Regions from separate parts of the Homo sapiens genome. Here region 2 is reported to be linked to region 1. Evidence: microRNA targets listed by miRTarBase, many of them from high-throughput screens and not tested one by one. Region 1 holds a microRNA gene; the other region holds the end of a gene's coding sequence.
The links. Region 1 holds the annotated microRNA hsa-miR-5009-5p (UUGGACUUUUUCAGAUUUGGGGAU, at 2,548-2,571, opposite strand). A microRNA usually pairs through its seed, bases 2 to 8, with sites in the 3' UTR of a target mRNA and lowers its output. Matches are read on the target gene's strand: a 7mer-m8 pairs with bases 2 to 8, a 7mer-A1 pairs with bases 2 to 7 and ends in A, and an 8mer does both.

Region 1 (5,519 bases):
ATAAGGCAAACCATTATTTTATCTAACAAAGAAAAAAAATGCTGCCAATTATAATTGTTAAGATGTCACCCACTACAACACACATCCAGATTTTAGAGTTATTGAAGTGTGATAAAATGCGCACCTTAGAATATACAAAATATGACATTATAAGCCAGGATCTAGATTTCACTGGACAAGTGGTTCAATTATATTATAGAAGGCTGACATGGAAAACAAAATTATAAACCCACACGTGGAAAAAGGAAGCATGATTAATAAAAATTCAAATGTGTGAGGTACCTCTACCTGGGTAGAAATTTAAAATGACACATTTCAGTACTGGAGTTACAAGGAAACAAACTTATATAGTACTAGAGGCATTATAAATTAACATACTCTTCATTTTTTTTTTTTTTGAGATGGAGTCTCACTGTTGTCGCCCAGGCTGGAGCGCAATGGCACGATCTCAGCTTACTGCAACCTCCACCTCCCGGGTTCAAGCAATTCTCCTGCCTCAACCCCCCAAGTAGCTGGGATTACAGGTGCATACCACCACGCCCGGCTAACTTTTTGGATTTTTAGTAGAGACAGGGTTTCACCATGTTAGCCAGGCTGGTCTTGAACTCCTGACCTCAGGTGATCCGCCCGCCTCGGCCTCCCAAAGTGCTGGGGTTACAGGTGTGAGCCACCGTGCCTGGCTAACATACTCTTTCTAAATATCTATCTAGCAACATGCATTATGATTAGAAATATTAATTCCCTTTGATCCAGGCATTCTGTTTTTAGCAGAATAGGCACAACCGTTTGCATAAAGACTTAGAGTAGTTTTATTCATATTAATTAAAAAAAGAAACAAAGTATCCAGTGTCTGTTATCCTAGGTGCTCTGCTACCTGAATCAGCTGAGAACACTCATTTTACCCCCCTGTTCTGCTTTGACCTACTCTTTTTTTTTTTTTTGAGACGGAGTTTCGCTCTTGTTGCCCGGGCCAGAGTACAATTTCAGCCCACCACAACCCCCGCCTCCTGGGTTCAAGAGGTTCTCCTACCTCAGCCTCCTGAGTAGCTACGATTACAGGCATGTGCCACCACACTCGGCTAATTTTTTGTATTTTTAGTAGAGACGGGGTTTCTCCATGTTGGCTAGGCTGGTCTCAAAGTCTCCTGACCTCAAGTGATCTGCCCGCCTCGGCCTCCCAAAGGACTGGGATTACCGGCGTGACCCACTGTGCTTGGCCAAAAGCTACTAATTTCCATATGTTAAACTTGTATTTAGTCACCTTACAGAACTCTATTATTAGTTCCAATTGTTTCCAACTGATTTGGATTTTCTAGATAATCAATTCATCTGTAACTATTATACATTCTGAAAACTAGTAAAGCAAATCTCCCATCACTGTCCTTTTTCCCTAGAAATATACTTCTGCATTTCTTGGCCACTCCTTTTCCCTGATAAATTTTGCCTTTACTGAGTTCTATAAACTCTCCTGACGGAATTATACTTGGTTTTCCATTTGATGTATTGCTCACCACCTTTGGGACTACTGTCATCTTTGCTTGACTCTTCCCAACAACGGGAGAGTTTGTAGCTCCATTTGTTCCAACTATTCCTTTGTTTTTTCTTTAAGATTTTATAATTTTATTGGAATCAATGTCAAGTATTCCATACCAAGTTAATTCCCAAGCACTAACTATCCTTTATTATTACTGTAAATGAGACTTCTTTAATTATGAATTTTCTAGCTGTTTTCTCAGAAATAGGAAATTTAATTTTGTTGGCTTTATCTCATATTCTGTCATTTTGCTCATATCATTTCCTTACTTATAATTCTTTAAAAATATTTTCTATGTCCATAATCCGGCCACCTTACATTGATAACTTACCTCTCTTTCTTTCTTTACTATGTCACTTCTTCATTTGTTTTTGTATCACTCACTACAAATGTTTGTTAAAATTAGAGTAAACAATAAAAGATACTCCTTTTTTTTTTTTGAGACAGAATCTCGCTCTGTCACTCAAGCTGGAGTGTAGTGGCATGAATATGGCTCACTGAAACCTCAACCCCTTGGGCTCAAGCAGTCCTCCTGCTTTAGCCACATGAGTAGCTGGGACCACAGGGGCACACCACCTGATTTTTTATAGAGACTAGGTCTCACTATGTTGCCCAGGCTGGTCTTGAACTCCTGAGCTCAAGTGATCCTCCTGCCTCAGGCTCCCAAAGGGTTGGGACTATAGGTATGAGCCACTGCACCTGGACGAAACACCCAACAAGAGCATTCATAAATGCCTACAGATTTCACCCTTGAGATAACATTGGCTCTGGTTCTTGGCTCTTGGTTTTGAAACTAAAATTGATTGCTTCAAGGAAAGTAAACTAGGTGATAAGGGGAAAGGGGAAGAAGGATATTTTTCACTATACAGGTTGAACACTTAAAATCCAAAAACCTGAAATCCAAAACACTGCAAAATCCAAAATTTTTGAGTGCCAACATGATGCTCAAAGGAAATGCTTATTGGTCATTTCAGGTTTTGGACTTTCAGATTTAGGATAAGTATAATGCAAATATCCCCAAATCTGAAAAAGTCCAAAATCCAAAACACTTCTGGTCCCAAACATTTCAAAGGGATATTCAACCTGTATACTCATAGTGTGCCTCTGAATTCTGAACCACATAACTATATTCATTTCTTCAGAAAGTAAACAGTTACATTAATAAATGTGTACTTTTAATCAAAAATGCTTCTTATTCCAGTTTGAGTGTATTTAATATAATTTGTATAATCGCTCCTCTCAGCAACTACTAATTTTTATTATATTAGTTTTTCTTACTGCTATAATAGACTATTAATTTTTCTTTGTTATACTGACTTGCATTCTTGGGATAAATACTATTTGGACACAATGTATAATTCTTCTATTTAATAGTATGCAGTTTTCCTGCTAAAGAAATAATTTTAGGGCTAGAAAAGAATATCTAGTATCTTTGTAGATTAAAAAAAAACCACTCAACACACAGAAGAGACAAAATGCAAAACAAACAAAAACCCTTAAGGCCAATAAAGCCTAGATGATTTGTTTAAGGTCACACTGCTTGTTAATGGCAGAGTCAAAAAGAAAAAAAAGGCAGGTCTCACAATCCCTTGGTTCAACTGATTGTCGGCTAAGATTTTACTTAGTAAGTAATTTTGTACCAGTACTAATACGCAATATTTGACGAACATCTTCCCCTTTTTTTTTTTTTTTGAGATAGAGTCTCACTCTATCACCCAGGCTGGAGTGCAGTGGCGCAATCTCGGCTCACTGCAACCTCCGCCTCCCAGCTCAAGCGATTCTTCTGCCTCAGCCTCCCGTGTAGCTGGGACTACAGGCGCATGCCACCACACCCAGCTAATTTTTTTTGTATTTTTAGTAGAGACAAGGTTTCACCATATTGGCCTGGCTGGTCTCGAACTCCTGACCTCGTGATCCTCCTGCCTCGGCCCCCAAAGTGCTGGGATCACAGGCGTGAGCCGCTGTGCCTGGCCCATCTTCCTTTTTAGAGTCAGGTTTTTGGATGATAACCAATTTATTCCATAAAATGCGCTTAGGTAGTAGGATTCCTTGTTCTAAGTTTTAAAAAATAACTTAATGTAACATCCAGGTTTTAATGTACTTCAACTTTAAAAAATTCTACTGTGACCCCATTAGGGAGTCAGTTCTTTTTTTAACATCTATTATTTCATCCTAATATTATTTCAGTGCCTTTATGTTGACCTCATTTGGGCAGTTTTTTGTTCTTGTTTTTTTTTTTGAGATAGAGTCTCGCTCTATTGCCCAGGCTGGAGTGTAATGGTGTGATCTCAGCTCACTGCAACCTCTGCCTCCCAGGTTCAGGTGATTCTCATGCCTTGGCTACCCAAACAGCCAAGCAGCTGGGATTACAGGCATGTGCCACCATGCCCAGCTAATTTTTCTATTTTTAGTAGAGACGAAGTTTCACCATGTTGGTCAGGCTGGTCTCAAACTCCTGGTCTCAAGTGATCCACCCTCCTTGGCCTCCCAAAGTGCTAGGATTACAGGCATGTGCCACTGCCCCAGGCCAGAGCAGTTATTTTTGTAGTCGGCTATTTCAAATATATTGGTAGTATAACTATGTATATATCATCCCTTTAAAACAATGTTTTCTATTTCTGACTTCTATCTTCTTTATATCAATTAGGCCAACTATTTATTAATTTTTATTGTCTTTTCAAAGATCAGATGGGTCCAGTGGTTCACACCTGTAATCCCAGCAATTTGGGAGGCCAAAGTGGGAAGACTGCCTGAGCTGAGATGTTCGAGACCAGCCTGGACAACATGGTGAGACTTCATCTCTAAAAAATTCAAAAAATTAGCCAGATGTGGTGACGCATGCCTGTAGGCCCCATTACTCAGGAGACTGAGGTAGGAGGATGGGTTGAGCCTGGGAGATGGAGGCTGCAGTGAGCTGTGATCACACTACTGCACTACAGTTTGAGAGCAAGACCTTGTCTCAAAAAAAAAAAAAAAAAAAAAATCAAACTTTTTAGTTCCTATTATTTTTACATTTTACTTATCTGATCTTACCAAATCCAATGTACAATGTACACTAAATATTTAATAAGTGTCTATTAAATTATAAAGTTAGAGGCCGGGCGCAGTGGTTCACACCTGTAATCCCAGCACTTTGGGAGGCCGAGGCGGGCGGATCACAAGGTCAGGATATCGAGACCATCTTGGCCAACATGGTGAAACCCTGTCGCTACTAAAACTACAAAAATTAGCTGGGCATGTGCCTGTAATCCCAGCTACTCGAGAGGCTGAGTAAGGCAGGAGAATCGCTTGAACCAGGGAGTCGGAGGTTGTGGTGAGCTGAGATCGTGCCACTGCACTCTAGACTGGCAACAGAGCAAGACTCCATCTCAAAAAAAATAAATAAATAAAAAAGTAAAAAAAGTTATAAAGTTAGTCTTTTTGTATTGTTAATACAAATCTCCAAGGTCCATTTTCTCTAATAACTGTGGCCCAATTTTTTTTTCTCTTTTAAAAAATTTTCTTTATTTTTTATAATATGGAATGCTTCACCAATTTGCATGTCATCCTTGCATAGTGGCAATGCTAATCTTTTCTGCACTGGTACACTTTTAGAATATATGCTGCTGAGGCAAGCACTCCATCCCAATTTTTAAAATACATTATCACTATATTTCCTTAATTTTCAAATAAACTCGTATTATGTACACATTTCTATAGCCTGCTACATACAGTTAACAGTACTATAAAGCACATTCTCACATTTGAATTCTACAACCTAATATCACTTTTCAGATGGTAGATTCATGACCCAAACCCAGATTTTCTGATGCTAGATCTTGAGCTTTTTTTCTTTTTTTGAGACAGGGTCTCACTCTGTTGCCCAGGCTGGAGTGGAGTGGCACAATCTTGGCTCACTGCAACCTCCGCCTCCTGGGTTCATGCGATTCTCCCACCTCAACCTCCCAAGTAGCTGGGAGTACAGGCATATGCCACCAGGCCCAGC
Region 2 (5,000 bases), not on the chromosome of region 1:
GGGAAAGGAGGGGAGGGAGCTCCGGCTCAGCCCCCAGCCCTGTTCTCTGCCCTACAGGAGCAGAAAGTATATGTGCAGCACCGGCTCCGGGAGCTGGGGTCGCTTGTGTGGGAACTGCTGGACCGCCAGGGTGCATACTTCTACCTGGCAGGGTGAGCTGGCCTGCGTGCAGCAGGAGTGGGCCCAGCCCCTGAGTGCCAGGCCTCATTGCGCCTTCTGCGACCTGCCCCTCTAGCAACGCCAAGTCCATGCCAGCGGACGTCTCGGAAGCCCTGATGTCCATCTTCCAGGAGGAGGGTGGACTCTGCAGCCCGGACGCAGCCGCGTATCTAGCCAGGCTCCAGCAGACACGGCGCTTCCAGACAGAGACGTGGGCCTGAGGCCCGCGGCTGCCCGTGCCCCCTCTGACAGCCATCCTCCTGGGAGCCCAGGAAGGCATCCACGAGGGAGCTCCTGGCCAGCAGCCGTCATCCTCTCGGACCAGCCAGCTGGTCCTCTGGGAACAGCCAGCTCCCGAGCACAGCCGCACTCCTGTTGACCCTGGATCCCACCCTTTGAGCCTGACCCCACTGCAGCCTCTGCCCAGCCAGCCCTGCGCTCCCCCACCCTGACAGTGAGCTGTGTCCTCGTCCCCCCACCCCCTTCCCAGTCAAGGTGGTGGCCTGGGCCGCTCCACCTCACCGGTGCAGTGACCCAGGACGGCATCAGCAGCCCAGTGAGCACCAGGGGTGGCATAGGGCACCCATGAGGCTGCGCTGCACTCCTCTGCCCTGGGGCCACCTCGGCTGCTGCAGCCTGCCCAGCAGCACATTCCAGTCACTGCCCCCGCACTCCCACAGGGCTCAGGCTGGGCTCAGAGGCCACTGAGATGCCAGCTCCTTGAGAGCAGTGGGGGTGTCCCAGGCCAGAGCAGCCTCTTCCTCTCCTGGTCCCAGAAAAACCCTTGCAGTAAATGGTGGCCTCTGGGTGGTTACTTCTAGCGCAGGCTTCCTTCCTTCCTCTAGCTCCTCCCGGTGCCCTGGGTGCTGGGTGCTGGATGGATGGGCGTCCTCTAGCTCCTCCCGGTGCCCTGGGTGCTGGGTGCTGGATGGGTGGGCGTCCTCTAGCTCCTCCCGGTGCCCTGGGTGCTGGGTGCTGGATGGGTGGGCGCCACGGTGCACCCTTGTTGGGCTGCCTGTGCCCGAGTGGCCTCTGCAGCTCTTATGTCTGCCTCTAATGGGATGTGCGCCCTGACTGCCTCGTTCTTAAGGGCATAGTGGGTCGGCTAAGATCTGATCGCCAGGACTGCGTTCTGGGCAGGTGCTGGGAAGGCGGAACCAAGCCGTCCGTGCCGCTAGGGAGCCGAGACTGCCGGAAAGAGGAGCGGCAGGAGGGGGCGTGGTTGTGCAGCCCCACCCCCGGGAGGGGCTTTAGGCACTGGGAAGGAAAGTCCTGTTGGAGGAGTTCGGTGGCTGTTCACACCCGCCTCGCTGTCTTGGAGTCTTGATCTGTCGTCGGCGGGTCGCTGGCACAGGACTAAACATGGCTGAGGCTGGGCTCCAGCCAGATCTGGCTGGGGACAGCACCGCGTGGGCCCAGGATCCACCCAGAGCAGGCAGGCCTTGCTGGGGCCCCAGTCAAGTCCACTTCCAGTGAGGAGAGCCAGCCGGGAGGTCAGTGCCAGAGCTCTGGTGGAGCCCAGACCCTGCCTTCCCTGAGGGCCGCCCCTGTCGCCGCCCTGGGGTCCCTGTCCTCCTATCCTGACTCCTGCCCCAGGGCCACCACCCCTGAACTGTGCCCTGGGGCCCCCACCCTCCACCTGGCCGACTCCAGCTCTGGGCCTGTCAGTCCACCTGGGTCCTCTCTGGGCCCTGAGTGCCTGGACCCTCTGTGCCAAGCACCAGCAAGCAAAGGGGATGACCTTGGGCACCCCCAAGGTGCTGAGACTACAGCCAGTGAGCCCCTGCTGGGGGCCAAAGCCATGGAGGGTGCCTGGGCCCTTCCAACCTGGAAGGAGGAGGGGAGAGAGCAGGCAGCAGGGCAGGGGGAAGAGGAGGAGTGCCCGATCTGCACAGAGCCCTACGGGCCCAGAGAGCGCCGCCTGGCCCTGCTGAACTGTAGCCACGGCCTGTGTGTGGGCTGCCTGCACAGGCTGCTGGGCTCGGCCTCCAGTGCCGACCTGGGCCGGGTGCGCTGCCCGCTGTGCCGCCAGAAGACGCCCGTGCTGGAATGGGAGATCTGCCGGCTACAGGAGGAGCTGCTACAGGCCGACGGGCCCTCACGCCAGCCCCGCCGAGAGGCCCCTGCATCCTATCACCGCAACCCTGGGCCCTGGGGCTCCCTGGAGCACCGCTACCAGCTGCGCTTCCTGGCAGGGCCCGTGGGCGGCCGGGGCTGCCTGCCCTTCCTGCCCTGTCCACCCTGCCTGGGTGCCCGGCTCTGGACCCTGCGGGAGCGGGGACCCTGTGCCCGCCGCCTGGCGCTGCTGAGCCTGCTGGCCCTTGAGCTTCTGGGGCTGCTGCTGGTCTTCACGCCGCTCCTGCTGCTGGGACTGCTCTTCGTGCTCCTGGACCGCTCTGGCCGCTGAGCAGAGCCCAGGACAGCCCCGCCGCCAACAGGCCAGGGGGCCCAGACTGGCCCACGTCCCCATGCCTGGGTGCTGTGAGGCCTGATGACCAGGCTGGAAAAACCCAAGGTTGGGTCCAGGGCAGTGGCCTTCAATCAAGACCTCCCATTGCTGAACCCACAACCAGGGCTACCCAGAGGCCTGACCCTGCCAGAGTCCATGGCTGCACTGCTGCCCAGACACTAGCTGAACCCAAGGACACCAGCGCCCAAGGACAGCTCCTGGAGGAGGCCAGCCCAGCAGGAAAGTCTGTGAGCAGGACCCCATTCACCCTGCGGCAGACGGGCACCGTACTGGCCACGGGCTGACGCCGGCCACACTTCCCCTCCGAGGGCCAGCTGAGCACAGCAGGCATGAAAGCAAACAGAGATACAGCAGTGAGTCAGTTCCTTGGAGAGGGCAGGGACTCCGCCCACCCTGTGTTCAGATAAGGGCCAGTGTGTGTCCCTGAAGGTCAGGCCAGCCGGGGGAGGGGTCCATGCTGCGAAAATTCAGCCTGCAAAGGCTCCTCTCCCCACTTGATCAGGCCCAGACCAGGTGGGGGTTGGCGCTGGCCTGTGTTGCAGGGGACAAGGGCCCACCCAGGCCTTGGAACATAAGCTCTGCCCCTGCACACCCTCATGTCACCACACCTGGGATGGAGACATCAGGTGGCCCAGCGAGAGATGGAGGACTGATCCTGGAACGTGAAGCAGCTTTCAATAAACCAGCTCCTGGGGATGCCATTGTTACTACTTGTCTTTGTTACCCCATCTTCACCATCTGGGCGGGCTTTTTTTTTTTTTTTTTTTTTTTGAGACAGAGCGTCACTTAGTCACTCAGGCTAGAGTGCAGTGGCACGATCTCTGCTCACTGCAACCTCCACCTCCCGAGTTCAAGCAATTCTTTTGCCTCACCCTCCTGAATAGCTGGGATTACAGACATGCACCACCACACCTGGATAATTTTTTTTGTATTTTTAGTAGAGAAGAGGTTTCACCACGTTGGCCAGCCTGGTTTTGAACTCCTGACCTCAGGTGATCCATCCGCCTTGGCCTCCCAAAGTGCTGGGATTACAGGCGTGAGACACCGCACCCAGCCTGGGGCGGGCTCTTCCTCCCACCCAAGTGGTCCAGGTGCCAGACAGGAGGCGCTGGGTCCTTATTCCCCTACCACCATTTCAGCCAGTCTTTGTCCCTAACTCCTGCACATGCCCAAAGGCTACTCCCACACAACCCTGGAAGACCCAGGTGGGTGCTCAGGTCCAGATGGGCACCAGGAGGGAAATCAACTGAGTTGTCCCCCACACAGGCACCCCCACACCATTGAAAATGTCCTCTCTGCCCAGCTGGGGTGTCTCTGCACACCCACCAGGTAGTCCTGCCAGGCGCACACAAGCAGCCCACTCTGTACGTGTGGGGGTTTGCACCGACACAGCCCACCCGGCCCTCCTGAGCTGCATGCACAGCCCAGCCTGGCCCCCAGTGCGCAGGGCAGGCCCAACCCGAGCAGCGCTGGGCCTCTCTCTGGCAGCTCCAAGCTGGGCCCTCTCTGGGTTGCAGCCCTGGGTGCCCACCCTAGGCCCAGGCCTGAGCACAGCCCACAGGAGCAAGCTTCAGTCCAGGAACAGGTGCAAACTTTGGCAAAGAGTTTTAATGGCAAAGTTGGCTGCAGCGACAATGCCACTCGGGGTGGGGCCGGAAGCCATGGTGGGGAAGGAAGGGTCAGCGGGCGGCAGGGCAGGGCCGGGTCCCTGAAGAAGCAGCGAGCGAGGCTCAGCGGGCAGTGGCGGGCAGGCAGGCGCTACTACATGATGGAGCAGGCGGACAGTGGGTTCCGCACGTGGCAGGTGCACGCGGCCCCACAGTACTGCCGGAAGGTCTGGTAGCAGCTGCCCTCGGGCTCAGCCCCCCACTGACCCCCGGATGGGGCCGTCAGCGCCTCAGGCGGCAGGCGGCTCAGGATGGACGTGTTGACAGCCAGCGCGGCCAGGCCGTAGTCGGTGAAGAGCACAGTCTCACGGCGGCAGGTGGGGCAGGAGATGAACTTGTACTTGGGGCAGGACTCGTAGAGAATCTGCAGGCACTGCTCACACACAGAGTGCAGGCAGGACAGCACGCGGGGCCTCCGCTGGGTGACATTGTAGGAGTGCCCACAGGTGGGGCACTCCAGGGGCTCGCCTGCCGCCGCCGAAGAAGCCGCCGAGGCCGAGGGGCCAGGCCGAATCACGTACTGATTCACAATGACCTCATCCTCTGGGGCCACGCGGGGAAAGCCCAGCTCCGAGCTTCCCTTACGGGGCCGCCGTGGCAGTGGCGGGGTATGGGGTGCCCCTTCCAAGGCAGGCATGTCCCCCCCACAGGCCTGGTTGACAATGATCTCTGTGTCTGAGGGCCAGGCACGCTTGGGTGCCAGA

Region 2: miRTarBase lists NDOR1 as a target of hsa-miR-5009-5p. Seed matches in the 3' UTR shown: 7mer-m8 at 1,619-1,625.

What each region holds. Positions count from the first base shown.
Region 1 is chr15:89,881,440-89,886,958 of GRCh38, forward strand. MIR5009 (microRNA 5009) reads right to left here and starts at 2,591; the gene lies at 2,492-2,591. The region is part of intron 7 of ARPIN-AP3S2 (ARPIN-AP3S2 readthrough); the gene reads right to left. All of the region lies in intron 3 of AP3S2 (adaptor related protein complex 3 subunit sigma 2), which reads right to left. It also overlaps the pseudogene RNU6-1111P.
Region 2 is chr9:137,216,037-137,221,036 of GRCh38, forward strand. NDOR1 (NADPH dependent diflavin oxidoreductase 1) reads left to right here. Exons shown (of 14, transcript NM_014434.4): 13 at 58-152; 14 at 236-3,325. The coding sequence ends at 380. It overlaps RNF208 (ring finger protein 208), which reads right to left. Exons shown (of 2, transcript NM_031297.7): 2 at 4,223-5,000. The coding sequence ends at 4,391. LOC122513141 (ring finger protein-like) reads left to right here and starts at 1,458. Exons shown (of 1, transcript NM_001395982.1): 1 at 1,458-3,325. The coding sequence starts at 1,961. The coding sequence ends at 2,566. RefSeq lists enhancers at 1,169-1,908, 1,909-2,648, 2,649-3,388 and a silencer at 1,328-1,505.